2 linked regions of the Homo sapiens genome follow. The protein of the gene in region 1 interacts with the protein of each later gene in a pairwise test. Each region holds a gene or a part of one and is shown in the gene's direction. Other genes may lie near its edges.

Region 1 (3,500 bases):
TTTTTAGTAGAAATGGGGTTTCACTGTGTTGGCCAGGCTGGTCTCAAACTCCTGACCTCAAGTGATCCACCCACCTCAGCCTCCCAAAGTGCTGGGATTACAGGCATGAGCCACCGCGCCTGGCCTACTTAGTTTACATTTAACTTAGTATATAGAAACAACTGTTCCTTTTTGCACTCGTAGTCATTAGACATGAATAATGTTTAAGATATGTAAGAACTATAACAAGTAAACTGGCATAAACAGGTTTGGGAACAACCAACTGACTTGTTAAGCATGTAACCCAACTAGTGAGAACAGAAGTACCTGATAATACAAAAAATAGCATACTGGTTAAGAATGGTCAGCATGCCATGGGCCAAAAAAAAAAAAAAAAAAGTGTTGGCTAAGGCCAGACAGTTAAATAGAGGTCAGTTAAGGGAGCTGTTGTAGTTAAAATCTGAAAATGGGTACGTTAAAACAAAAATACAGAGTTTACTAACTCACTCAAAGAGAAGTCACATTTTGTGATAGAATTTATTTGGCTTATAAAAGTGAAAGATATATATATAATACTTCAGATTTCCGTTAATATCTAATCCTTACTTAGCGTATGTTTGTTATGCATTTAGGGAAAATCTTACAGTATTTTTACATTATTTTTTATACATTATTTCCCCCCTTGTATATTCAAAGTTTGAAAACAAAAGTTTAGAATTGAATATCAAGTTAGAGAAACACAGAAGAAATATTTGGAAGTGTTGATAATGAAACTACGCTCTCTATTCTTAGAGACAATTTTTAGGAAATAGCTTTAACATAAAGGCTCAGTATTTATTTTGACTGGTATGTGGTACATTGTAATGTGTTTAGAAATTGTATCTAGTTTAATATTTTGGGTGTTTTTCTTCCGAGATAGATCATTATTCATATCAATGGACAGAATAGTGGATTGAAATGTACCTTGCGATCTTGAAGTGTTTTTCCTTGATCCTCCACTCCCCTTCTTTTGCGTATTATTATTGGATGTTTATTAGTTGCAATGCTTAACTCTTTGAAAATAGTATAATGATTGATGTAAAAATGGGGAGGAATTAAATTTTATCTTTATTATTCTCTAAGTAGTAGTATTCCTAGAGTACCATGCTAGTTTCTGTGGATTTAAATATAGTTATTCTGTCTTGAATTATGGACTATAATAATGTTGCCTGGCTTATTTGGAGAAAAGAAAATTTTAAATTAAACATTTAATTTAAATGTTTAATTTAAATTAAACAAAAAATTTAAATGTTTAATTTAAATTAAACAAAAAATTTAAATTTTAACATTTATATCCATCTTCTCAGGAAGAAAACAGTGTTACTTTATTGTAATTGATTTTTGTTATAGCTATATGTACATGCATAACTTTCATTGTGGTACATAGTAAAAGACATGCGTAGGAACAAGAAACAATTTGAATTCTTTGAAGGAGAGATAAAAGTAGAAGTAAAAAGATGAATTAGGCAACAAAATCTGTGTGGTAGTCTTAGATACAATGAAATGGATGATAGGAAAAAACACAAGCATTTATATTATTGAACTTGAACTTTCCTTGCCCTTTGGGTTCACAGACTCCATGTTACATATTTAAAGGAAATTAAAAATATAACTGAATTCAGTGAACTCAGGATGAGTTTACAAATTAGAGTATGTACTTTAGTTAAATAAATAAATGTAATAGTAATATTCCTCATTAAATTTTAATAGGCATCTCTTGGTATTTTTTTTCCTTAAATATGGGCTATGCCTATTGTCACTTCATGTCAGAATACAAAGAATGTAAATGTTTAATTTCTTTATATGGCACTCTTATGAAATTGATAATATTCACGTACAAAGAAATCTGGGCTTGAAGAGTTGATGTGACTTTACTGTAACCATTCATTACTATATTATTTGTTGGTGGACCTAGCATCTGAACCCACATTTCTTGATAGAGCCTAATCCATTTTAAGTTCATTCTTAGTTTAATGATTAAATCACTCTTAATTTATAAAAACAATATTCTTTATCTGTGTGATAATAAAGTGGGTGAAATAATTTCAAGGAAGAAAGTATGTCTTGAGAGAATTTATTCCTTAATGTGAAAGGATTGACAGTAAGTAGGTGAGAGGAAAAATAGTATTCCCTTACTTTGTGTAAAAAGAGCTATTTGTATGTAGAATAAGTGTTTGTAGAAAGACAGTTGAATTCTTCAGTTATTATAGCTTGATACTTAGAAGACCCAGCCCCTGCTACAAAATTTGCCGCATAGTAGATATTCTGAATATGTTAGTTGTAATTGTTTCAATTAAAAGCAAATGTTTATGGAATATTTACACTGTTTACTTTTTATATTCTATTTTTAAAATAAAGTGCACATGATAAAAAATATAATTTGTGGCATTAAAAAGTTTAAGAAGTACATGCTGCTTTTTAGTCTTGCACTTGAGGGACAACCAAACTTAAATTTCTGGTCATCCTTTCAGAAAATATGTAGGACTATACAAGGATTTGTTTATATCTTTCATAAATATTTACACAAATGGTATCATATTAAGCCTATTGTTCTGCACCTTGTTTTAATACAACTTACACATTAACTGTTATATTCTGTTGAATCGTGTGGATATATTATATTTATTTGCCTGGACCCTGTTTTTGCACATTTAAATCATGCCTAATTTTTATTACAATCATTATTGAAACAAATATGTACTTTAAAATTTGTTTTTAGTTATTGTCAAATACTCCTTCAAGAGTACCACTCCTCACTCCTACCAGTAGTGAATGAGTGCCTCTGTTTCTCCTTACCCGCAAGTATTGAGGAAGTTGGGTTTGGCAAATGTTAAAGTATTTGTCAAACTGCTACATTAAAATGGTATCTTATTATTTTAAATTGCACTTTTTATCCATGAGGTTGAGTAACTTAATAATTTATAGCCCATTTTTATTTCTTTTTCCTTTTCCAATTGCTTATGCACTTTTTTTTTGGTTTTTCTTTCCTTTTTGGCTTGTAGAAACTCTTCATATGGTAATTAACCATTTGGCACATTTGTTGCAAATATTTTCCCCCACATTGTCACTTGTCTGTTTCTTCTTTGCTTGTTTTATAGTCTATATTAGGCCCTAGAGAAATCTTAGATTTTTACATACTCTTATTGACATCTTTTATTACGGCTTCTGTATTTACTTGTTTAGATAGGTGTTTCTCTCTCAAAGACTATCTCTCTATATGAATGTAGATATATTTTCATCTAAAATTTACACTTGAATTTTGATTCCTGTGGAAGTTATTTTAGTTTAAGGAGTGATATTGATGTTTTTAGTTTTTTTTCCACATGACTAATTATGTATCCTGGTAGCATTAATTAAATAACTAACCTTTTTCCAAGTGGTTTCAAACACCACTTTCATCATATATTACGGTCCCATATTTATTTAAGGTTGTTTCTGGACTCTCTTCTGGGCATTTGGCTTGTCCTTCTTATCCTCTGTTT
Region 2 (3,500 bases), on another chromosome or scaffold:
AGTCTTACTCTTGTCGCCCAGGCTGGAGCACAGTGGTGCGACCTTGACTCACTGCAATCTCCGCTTCCTGAGTTCAAGCGATTCTCCTGCCTCAGCCTCCCAAGTAGTTGAGACTATAGGTGCCCGCCACCATGCCCAGCTAATTTTTGTATTTTTAGTAGAGACGAGATTTCACCATGTTGGCCAGGCTGGCATCGAACTCGTGACCTCAGGTGATCCACCCACCTTGGCCTCCCAAAGTGCTGGGATTACAGGCATGAGCCACCACGCCTGGCCCATGCAATTTCAAAATAGCGGTATCAGTGTCATTGTTAACACTGTCATTATTAAGACGGCTGAAGTCAGTTTAAGAATTGTGATTCATTTGTCTTTATATCCCTGTGTGAATGCTACGGACATGTAATCAATATATCGTGTTTTAAAGTAATGTTAATTGTCCTTTGGGTACACCAACTTTATATACAGTGAGGTTCGTTTGTTCAGTATGTTTGAAAGTTACAGGGATTTCTGTGTTTTCCTTTTTGAAATAGTTCTGTTTTAAATTATGTAAAATCTTTGAAACAATAAGTTGTTTCAAAAAAAATACACTAAAACAAGATACACTCAAAAATTCAGTTTCCATCCCTTTCCACTCTACATTTTTCCTTCCTCTCCATTTTTATTTTTTGATTATCCTTTATTGTTTTTTAAACGGTATGCATATCAGTGTATCTGAAAACCGCCACCTTCTAACATTTAAGGTAGTAGACAGTATATACAGATTTGAACCTTGCTTTTTCACATAATAGATAGTTGAGGTCATTCCATAGCAGTACACAGAAACTCATCTTTGGTCTTAAAACTGCATAGGTACTTTAGTCCTCTGTTGACAAATGTTGGGTTGTTTCAGTCTTCTGCTATCACAAATAATGCTGCAAAGAATACATTTGTTCATATGTCATTTCATCCTTGGCAATTTTGCCTCTGGAAAGTTCCTAGAAGTCAGATTCCCAGGTCAAAGGTTAAATGCGCATGTAATTTTGCTGGATATTGTTAAATCCCCCTACAGAGCATGCACCACTCAGCATTCCCCTCAGCGTTGTATGAGAGGGACCATTTCTCCATGGCCTCACCAGCAGATTTGGTTATTGTAGCTCTGGGCTTTTACCAATTTCACAGGTTAAAAATAGTATCTAAGACAGGCGTGGCAGCTCATGCCTGTAATCCCAGCACTTTGAGAGGCCGAGGAAGGCAGATCACTGGAGGTCAGGAGTTCGAGATCATCCTAGCCAACATGGTGAAATCCTGTCTCTACTAAAAACATAAAAATTAGCTGGGCATGGTGGCACATGCCTGTAATCCCAGCTACTCAGGAGGCTGAGGAAGGAGAATATCAGGAACCTGGGAGGCAGGGGTTGCAGTGAGCAGAGATAGCGCCACTCCACTCCAGCCTGGGCGACAGAGTGAGACTCTGTCTCAAAAAAAAAAAAAAAGCCAGCCGAGCTTGGTGGCTTACACCTGTAATCCCAGCACTTTGGGAGGCTGAGGCAGGTGGATCACCTGAAATCCGGAGTTTGAGACCAGCCTGGCCAACGTGGCAAAAACCGGTTGCTACTAAAAATACAAAAAATTTAGCCAGGCGTGGTCGTGTGTGCCTGTAATCCCAGTTACTTGGGAGGCTGAGGCAGGAGAACTGCTTGACCCTGAAAGGCAGAGGTCAAGTGAGCCGAGCTCACGCCACTGCCCTCCAGCCTGGACGACAGAGTGAGATTCTGTCTCAAAGAAAAAAAGGTATCTAATTTTTGTCTCTTATGAGTAGTTTGATCATCTGTTCATATGTTGAATGATTATTTTCAGTTCTGTTTCCATGAGTCTTAGTTCATATCCTTTACCCATTTTTCTGAAGGGCTACCAGCCAAATCTCATGTTCAAGAGTTTTTCCTATAGTAGAGAAACCTATTCCAAATGAAGCAAAGTTTTGAACGTAAAATAGAAACCATAGAAGTGCAGTGTTAGAAGAAACAGGCTCCTCACGCGTTGCTGGTGGGAGTGTCAGTTGGTACAGCTCTCTAGAGGGCTTTGTGACAGGAATTGTCCACATAAGAGATACATGCACCCTTTGATCAAGCAGCTTTACCTTTAGGAAGTTATCCTACACACATACTGGGAAATGGATACAAGGATTTAATGTAACATTGTTTTAATAATAGCAGCTTGGAAACAATGTACATGTTATCTTTTCAGGGAGCTGACTGAATAACTTACAGTATTGGTGTAAGTTGGAATATACTATGTAACTATGAAAAAGAATAAGGCAACTGAAGAAGTACTCATGAGAATGATCTCAAAAAGCAATTACATAAAAACAAGGCTCAGAACTGTATAGTATCCTCTATTATTCGGGCTTTTAAAAATCTTTTAATATGCATAAAATAATTCTTACAGGATATATTAAAAACTGGCAATCATTACTGAGATAAAAAGGAAATTTACTTTTTACTGTACAGTCTTTTTTTTTTTCTTTCTTTTGAGACAGAGTCTCGCACTGTCGCCCGGGCTGGAGTGCAGTGCTGTGACCTTGGCTCACTGCAACCTCCACCTCCTGGGTTCAAGCAATTCCCCAGTCTCAGCCTCCCAAGTAGCTGGGATTACAGGCACCCACCACCATGCCCGGCTAATTTTTGTATTTTTAGTAGAGATGGGTTTTCACCATGTTGGCTAGGATGGTCTCGAACTCGTGACCTCAGGTGATCCGTCCGCCTTGGCCTCCCGAAGTGCTGGGATTACAGGCGTGAGCCACCACACCTGGCCCCAAGTTGTTGTCTTTTTCTTAGAGATTTGAATACGCTCTTTATATGTTCTAGATACAAGCTGTCTGTCATGTATGTGTTGCAACAAAAAAGTGTCCTGCTCTTGCCATTCTACTTCCTTGTGGTTAGCATACTTTGTGTAGTATTCAGGAAATCTTTGCCTACCTAACCTAAGGTCATGATAATTTTCTTCTGTGCTACCTTCTAGAAGCTTTATTATTTTATTATTACTTTTATATGTAAATCCATAAACCACCTGAAATTAATTTTTGTATATGGTGTGAGGTTGGAATCAAAATTAGTTTTTTTTGTGTTTGGTGGTGTTGGTGGTTTTTGTTGTTGTTGTTGTTGTTTTTTACTGTAGAAATACCCATTTCTCTTAGCAACATTTATTGAAAGGACCATCCTTATTTCTCTGCAGCACCGTCTTTGTCTAATTTAAGTGTCTGTATATATGTGGGTCCATTTCTAGACTCTGTTTTGTTCCATTGGTCTATTTTTCTACCTACCCTTGTGCCAGTCTTTGTTTTACCCCTAGCCTTATACTTTAAGTCTTGATAGAGTCAGTCATCCCACTTTCTCATTTCTCTTCAGGACTGTCTTGTATCTTGGCCTTTTGCATTTTCATATAATTTTTAGATCAACTTGTCAATTTCCACAAAAAAAAAAAAAAGTTCTGAGATACTGATTGGGATTGCCTTTCATCTACTG

What was found.
Region 2: the proteins of CERT1 (region 1) and POM121 interact in a two-hybrid assay, tested with the Homo sapiens proteins (one large-scale study listed by BioGRID and IntAct).

The regions. Positions count from the first base shown.
Region 1 is NC_000005.10:75,501,630-75,505,129, reverse strand, and holds part of CERT1 (ceramide transfer protein), read left to right. Parts: intron 1-3,500. UniProt on the Homo sapiens protein: Shelters ceramides and diacylglycerol lipids inside its START domain and mediates the intracellular trafficking of ceramides and diacylglycerol lipids in a non-vesicular manner.
Region 2 is NC_000007.14:72,931,595-72,935,094, forward strand, and holds part of POM121 (nuclear envelope pore membrane protein POM 121), read left to right. Parts: intron 1-3,500. UniProt on the Homo sapiens protein: Essential component of the nuclear pore complex (NPC). The repeat-containing domain may be involved in anchoring components of the pore complex to the pore membrane. When overexpressed in cells induces the formation of cytoplasmic annulate lamellae (AL).